Linked DNA regions of Homo sapiens. The protein of the gene in region 1 interacts with the protein of each later gene in a pairwise test. Each region holds a gene or a part of one and is shown in the gene's direction. Other genes may lie near its edges.

What was found. The genes of interacting proteins can lie anywhere in the genome.
Region 2: the proteins of LCP2 (region 1) and CD6 interact in binary tests that used the Homo sapiens proteins (3 or more experiments, as listed by UniProt).

What each region holds. Positions count from the first base shown.
Region 1 is NC_000005.10:170,295,682-170,299,567, reverse strand, and holds the start of LCP2 (lymphocyte cytosolic protein 2), read left to right. Parts: upstream 1-1,790; 5' UTR 1,791-1,956; coding exon 1,957-2,034; intron 2,035-3,886. UniProt on the Homo sapiens protein: Adapter protein primarily involved in signaling pathways within T-cells, as well as other immune cells such as platelets, mast cells, and natural killer (NK) cells.
Region 2 is NC_000011.10:61,002,600-61,006,279, forward strand, and holds part of CD6 (T-cell differentiation antigen CD6 isoform 1 precursor), read left to right. Parts: intron 1-762; exon of another isoform or gene 763-2,346; intron 2,347-3,680.

The sequences.
Region 1 (3,886 bases):
GCTTTTTATTGTTCACTGCTATGCTAGTGATTTGAAAGACCAGGTGACCTCTCACCCGTGATGGAGCTTTTGTACAGCAGAGCTGTGCTTTATACAGAATGATCAGCTACAAAGAGCTCTTAGGTGCGGCCCAGGCACAATGGCTCACGCCTGTAATCCCAACACTTTGGAAGGCCTAGGCGGGCAGATCACCTGAGGTTGGGAGTTCCAGGCCAGCCTGGCCAACAGGGATAAACCCCGTCTTTACTAAAAATACAAAATTAGCTGGGCGTGGTGGTGCATGCCTGTAATCCCAGCTACTCGGGAGGCTGAGGAAAGAGAATCGCTTGAACCTGGGAGGCAGCGGAGGTTGCAGTGAGCCGAGATGGCACCATTGCACTCCAGCCCGGGCAACAAGAGCGAAACTCCGTCTCAATAAAAAAAAAAAAAAAAAAAGAAAGAAAGAAAGAAAGAGAGAAAAGAAAAGAGTTCTTAGGTGTGAGGCCCTGCAAGGAGCAAATGGCCTGGGCTACCTTCACTGATGCCCTCAGCACCTTCTAAGGTGAGGCTAACACCAGCTCACATTGATGAGCTAGTGCTGGGCCTGGAGCAAAATGTGTATTTCATTTAAGCTGCCCACCAGCTTGTGAGGCAGGTGCATTACCGTGACGGCGGGGCTCCTCAGAGTGTGTATAAGAAGAAAACTGTGCATGGCCAAAGCTATGCTTGAAAACCCTCAGGAAGGCACCACCTCAAGGACCAACATAGCATCACTTAGTAAAGGCAACAGCCTTGGAACAGATGACTCGTGTGTGTGTGTGTGTGTGTGTGTGTGTGTGTGTGGCATTAGATGAAGTAGTAACTTGTGTTTAGAGGTTGCCTTATTGCACAAATATAGTTGCTTTTATACACTGGACTCACCCTCTGCCAATAAGTTGTTCAGTTATGAGAAATGAACAATGTCTGAAACTAAGAAAACAGCAAATTCTCACCTCCTATCTCCAGGGAATGTGCTCTTTGGCTAGAATATATGGCAGAATCAATAGTGAATAAAATATATTGTGGAAACAATAGTGAATGGAATATATGACACTACCAATAGCAATTGTTAAGTTTTTTTTCTTTTTAATTTTTCTTTTTAGGTTTGTCTAGTTGAATGCATCTAAGTTTTATGTGCATATGAAGAATCACTGTTTTCCTATTATACAGATTTGGAAACTGAGATTCCCAGCTTTTAACTCCTTGCCTAAGGTTGCATAGCACAGAAATAGTCATATCAGAAACTGAGCCCTGTCTGCACAGTGTAGCACCTTGTTCAGCCCTGGGTGCCTGACTCACTCACTCCTTGAGGACCCTCTCATGACAACTGTAAAGAGGCAGCTGAAAGAATCCCAGTCTTTGATGGTGGGAGGGGAAAGTGGTTGGAAAGCATTAAAAAAACATGCTCCAGCAGTTCACTGATGTGGGAAATTGTCTGTATTTCAGGTCAACCGTCAGGATAGATTTTGGTCTGCAAAGCCCCAGCTGAGCAAGAATGCAGTGTAGACATATGGGTGCCCAGAGTTTAAAGGAAAATTACTCAGACTCACATTGGAGTTTAAGACCCCTTCATTGCCTCTCCTACTGGGTTGGGGTGACTGGAGCCAGTGGGGAATTACCAACCCTGTGGCTCTCTCTGCATCTCAAGCCTCCAGAGCTGGGCTTCCTTGTTTACTTATTTAGAGCCCAGCAGAGGAAGTGGTAAAGGAAACTAGCTGAGTCGTTTTCTGAGAAGAGACCATATTTGTTCGCAGAGGAAGCCGTTGCTTTCTGGGATCTGGCTACGCCAGAAAAGACATCGGCTCCAACAGGGGTGTTCCACAGGGTAGCTGGGAGTTGGAAGAGCCAAGAACGCCTCCGAGCTCTGGATTTGAGCTTCTCTGCCCATGGGTGAAGCGCCCATGCTCAGCTTGTGAGCTTCTTCCCGGGAGAGCAGCCATGGCACTGAGGAATGTGCCCTTTCGCTCAGAGGTCCTGGGCTGGGACCCCGACAGCCTTGCTGACTATTTCAAGAAGGTAAGCCTTGCTCTTGTGTGAATGGTCATGATGCTAGTGCCCTTGGTGGGCTGAGCTGAGGCTTGACGATGGAATTGGGGCAGAATGTGGGAGGTGTATAAGATAGCAATGGAACCCTATGGCAACTTTACTGGTTGAGTGAGCGCCATATAGACCGCTGAGTTTTCCTGACCATGAGTTCCGGAGAGAAGGATGGGAGCAGAAGCCCTCAAATGAGTATGTGCCTATTATGTGCTAGGGTTTGAATTCGGTGTCTCACAGGCACTGTCCCATTTAGCGCTCCCTACTATGTTGTGAGGTCAGCATTGTTATCCCCTTGACTCAGCTGCAAAATCAGCTCAGGGAAGTGAAATGGTCCGAAGCCCTAGGGACTACATGTGATAGAGGCAAGACTCAAGCCACACCTATCTGGTTTTAAAGTCCATGCTCTGAGATGCAGAGAACTGTTGTAACTGCTAATGAGATCAACGCTACTTACTAGAAAGGGGAGACGTGGTGTCCTGGAGGCAGGAGAAAGAATAGGCAGGGTGGGAGGGCTGGATAGAGGACTATGATGAGCAGTGCCAGACACAGCATTTGGGCTTTCACTGCTCACGACCCTAAGGGGGGTCCTCAAGCTCCCGCCTGGGGCAGTCTCCTTGGAGCCTTATGAGAGTCTTGTGAAGCAGGACAGAAAACTGATGTGAGCCCCAATTTATAGCTATGAAAACTGAGGCCCCTAGAGGAAAAGAGGCTTGTGGCGGTGCTGGGACCAGAGCGTTGCTGTCTTATCTTCTGGACTTAGAGGAAAGGTTGAAGGATCCCTGTGCTTGGTCATTGGCAGAAGGGGACAACGCATCTGCTTGGGCAGATCTCAAGCCACATGACTTAGTTATAGTCCCTCTACCCTGACCATGTGGTAAGATGACTTGTGCGAGACGGTTAAGCTTCTAACACCCTCATCCCTGCAGGCTGGCATCGGATTCTGTTGATATTCCAGACTGTCATAAAGATGAGATTGTAAAGCTAAGATGGTAGAAGTCATCTAATTCAGCTTCGTGTTTTTCCTGGGGAAATTGAGATTCAAGAGGGTAGACGAGGTTCCCTAGGACGTATAGCCAAACCTGGGGTCTATGCATTTCCGAGGCATTTATAGTCACAGCTGTTCTCCCCCAACCTGAAGAAGAAAATGAGAACATGTTGAACTAGGTGTGGTATGGTAGGGGTACAGTTCACAGATCCTGTTTTTTGCCATATTTTGTGCTTTCATTTCTGTTATTTTCCTTCTGCAAGGTCATAATAAACTTAGATTTCAGCAAATATTGTTGCGCAACTGGTTTTTTGAAGGATGTTTCTAAATATCTTGCTCAAATATAGACCAAATAAGATAGGGCAACAAGGTAAAATTTGCCAAGAGGGAATAAAGTGGCATGTTACCTTGATAAGGGAAAAAGAAAGGAATTGAGAATTATGAAGAGAAAGACTTGGGACGGGCTGAGAGGCACAGATAGGCCTAACATTCAGGTGTGACCAGGAGAATTATACAATCCAATTGAGCAACAGAGAATTGATCCCTAAAACTCCCATCAGTACAGGGAGATGGACCACGGGTCAGGGATGGTACAGGAAGACCTCACTGCCTGAGCTGGGGGAAGGGAGAGTTTTCTTCCTGGAGATCTCAGACCCCAGGACAAATCTACAGCACCCAGGCAGGTTCCTTCTTCTGCCATAAATGGACTGAGGGAAGAAACTAGGAGACTGAGGCAAATCTGTGATCCTGGAAGTTCTAGTCCCTCCACAGACTTGGATAGAAACCCTTCAGATTCTGAGTACCTCAGCCCCCTGAAAGAAACTACCAAACGAATGGACCGCA
Region 2 (3,680 bases), on another chromosome or scaffold:
TTAATGATGTAAAAAAGCAAATTCACAGGAAAGGGTAAAAGTTTGCTCTTACTCTGTTTTGTGTTGCTATAACAAAGTACCACAGAGTGAGTAATTTAAAACAAAAAGAAATTTATTTCTTATAGTTCTGCAGGCTGGAAAGCCCAAGATCTAGGGGCCACATCTGATGAGGGCCTTCTCTCTGCATCATAACACAATGGAAGGCGTCACATGGCCAGAGAGTGCACGAGAGACAGAGCGAGGGACGGTGGAACTCTCACTTTTACGACAAAACCACTTCTGCAATAACCAACACACCCCTGTGATAACAGCATTAATCCGTTCATGAAGGCAGACTCCTCATGACCTAATCAACTCTTTTCTTTTCTTTTCTTTTCTTTTTTGAGACACAGTCTCGCTCTGTTGGCCAGGCTGGAGGGCAGTGGCGCAATCTCAGCTCACTGCAACCTCCACCTCCCAGGCTCAAGCAATTCTCCTGCCTCAGCCTCCGGAGTAGCTGGGATTACAGGCATGTGCCACCACACCCGACTAATTTTTGTATTTGTAGTAGAGACAGGGTTTCACCATGTTGGCCAGGCTGGTCTCGGACTCCTGACCTCAGGTAATCCACACGCCTTGGCCTCCCAAAGTGTTGGGCTTACAGGCGTGAGCCACCACGCCCAGCCCTAATCAATTCTTAAACATCCAACTTCTCAACACAGGTCATTGGGGGATTAAATTTCCAACACATGAACCTTGGAACACATTCAAACCATAGCAGGCTCCTTTTCAAATAAATTTATTGCAGCAAAAAAGTGAACCAATTTAAAGAAAAGTGTGAGGCACAGGGCCAGGCAAAAGTGGTAACAATGGGCCGGGTGTGGTGGCTCACGCCTGTAATCCCAACAATTTGGGAGGCTGAGGTGGGCAGATCACTTGAGCTCAGGAATTTGAGACCAGCCTGGGCAACATGGGAAAACCCCGTCTCTACAAAAAATATACAAAAATTAGCCAGCATCGTGGCAAGCGCCTGTAGTCCTAGCTACTCGGGAAACTGAGGCACGAGAATCGCTTGAACCCAGGAGGTGGAGGTTGCAGTGAGCCGAGATTGTGCCACTGCACTCCAGCCTGGGCGACAGAGCGAGACACTGTCTCAAAACAAAAAAGGTGATAATGATGTCTGAGAAACGCTGATCTTCCATTCGGCCCTCTGTGAAATGAGGCCTGGATGGAAAGACGGTTCCAGGTAATTTCTGCTTTTGTTCCTGTAGCACAGAAGTCAGAGAACAGAGAAGCCAGGTTCCCTTCTTGGGATAGGGGATGGGAGAATGCTTGACACAAAAATAAAGCCCTCGAGGTTATCCGCTTTCAACCAGCTGCCTTGGAGCTGGCAGCTGCTGCTCATTCATTCAGTCAATCAACAAACATTGCCTTGGACACTGTGGGGGACACAGGGCTGACCCAGCCATGGGCCCTGCCCTCTAGGGTTTTCTGATCTAGGAGAACACATTTTTGTCTTTATGCATGAGAAAGTGGTTTTCCAGACCCAGAGAGAGAGATGATACAGAGCAGAGCTAAAGCCCCCCTGCCCCACACACATCACATTCACACACACAGTCGTAATCACATATGCACACAGTCCCTCACACACACTCATATGCACACACCTCACAGTCATACACACTGCAGCCATCATTCAATCCCCCTCCCCCACCCCATGTAGTAACATTGAAAACTACGCAGGAGCACTGGGACGGTTGCTGTGGGAACCGGGATTCTGAAATCCTAACTTGTGGGCATCTGAATTCTTGCGCTGAACATTCTAATACATCAGCCACAGAGTTTATGCTCTGAATTTGGAGTCATTTCTCCTCCAGGGGCTCAGGCTGGGCAGCCAGCCAGGGAGTTAGCGAGGACGGCAATTAGAGGGCTGAAGACTTTCTGCCTGATGATGAAGAGGCCCACACGGTTTCCTGGAGAGGGCTGTCTGCCAGGGTGTGCACGCGCACATGCACAAGCTCAGGCTCAGGGGGTATGTCCGTGGAATCTGCTCAGGTGAAGCTCCAGGAATGTGTAGTGGTCATGTCCGAGTCTTCAGGCTCTGTATCGGTCAGGCCGGACTAGGCAAGGCTGTAGCAACAAGGACACCCCCAAATCTTCATGGTTTAACATGATAAGGGCTTACTCCTTACTCACACAAAATCCAAGCTGGGTCAACATCCCCTTCCCTCTTGCAGTTCCTCCGCAACCCAGGGCCTCTAATATCCTTCAACAGGGAAGACGTAAATGGAAATGGCTCACTGCCTCTTCCCTGCTTTGGCTCAAAAGCAGGCAGACGTCTTCTGCCTAGGCTTCAACCAGCCCAACCTAAGTGCAAGAGAAACCAGGAAATGCAGAGGAGTTCATAGGCAACCACAACAGTCCCTGCCCCAGAGCCTCCCTTTGTGCTTTGCAAGCCCAAACATCCCAGCCCAGAGGGGAGGCAAGTCCTTGGAGACAGTTTAAATCCGGGCTCTGCAGCTTGCTCACTGGGTGGCCTCAGGCCCACGCATCAGTTGGGTTCCCACCAGGAAACCTAGAATAGGAATTTAAAGGGGACTTATTTACAGAAGAACTATTTACAAAGGGTAATGCAGTAAGTAGAATCTAAGAGCAACTTCTGGCCAAAGGAGACACAACCAGGGAGTGGTCAGTGAGTCCGAGTAGGAGACAGTCAAGGAGAGGTCACCTTGAATAAGCAATGTCCTTCACATGAGGGACACAGCCTACCCGAGGGACCTCACAGGGGGGGCCAGAGGAATAAGTGTCACATCTTCGCTCTCCTCACTTCTGCCTAGCTCTGCTAAGGCTCCCCATTGGCTGAATCTGACAGAAGCCATAAGGCCCAGGAAGACAGGGGTTAATCCAAACAGATCAGCCTCCCAGGGCAGAATGGATAGTAGCTCTGGTGGAATAAATGGACCCTATCTGGCAGGGACAACTGATTTTTGCTTTTGGAGCCTCCTTTTCCTAATCTGTAAAATAAGAATGCTAACACCTGCCTCATTGCATTGTTGAAAGTAAATGGAATAGGCTGGATGTAGTGGCTCATGCCTGTAATCCCGGCACTTTGGGAGGCTGAGGCAGGCAGATCACCTGAGGTCAGGAGTTCGAGACCAGCCTGACCAACATGGAGAAACCCCGTCTCTACTAAAAATACAAAATTAGCCAGGCGTGGTGGCGCATGCCTGTAATCCCAGCTACTCAGGAGGCTGAGACAGGAGAATCGCTTGAATCTGGGAGGTGGAGGTTGCGGTGAGCCGAGATCAAGCCATTGCACTCCAGCCTGGGCAACAAGAGCGAAACTCTGTCTCAAAAAAAAAAAAAGAAAGAAAGAAAGAAAGTAAATGGAACAATATATGCAAATATGCAAATACCTGTCCTTCATGAATGCTAGTTTCTTAGTGTCTGAAGGCACTTTGCAATCCAGTGGTTCCCAGTCCAGGATGTGTCAATTATTCTAAAGTCTGATATGAAATTCTCAAACAAATTCTATAAACAAAATTTTCTTTTTCTAAATCACTCCCACTTTCGAGCTTTTTCTATATGTCAAGTATTTCATAGGCTGTCTCATTTCAGTCTCACAATATTTTCCTAAGAATCATAGCTGAAAAATTGGGACTGGCACAGAAAGATTAAGTCACCCATTCATGGTCACGAAG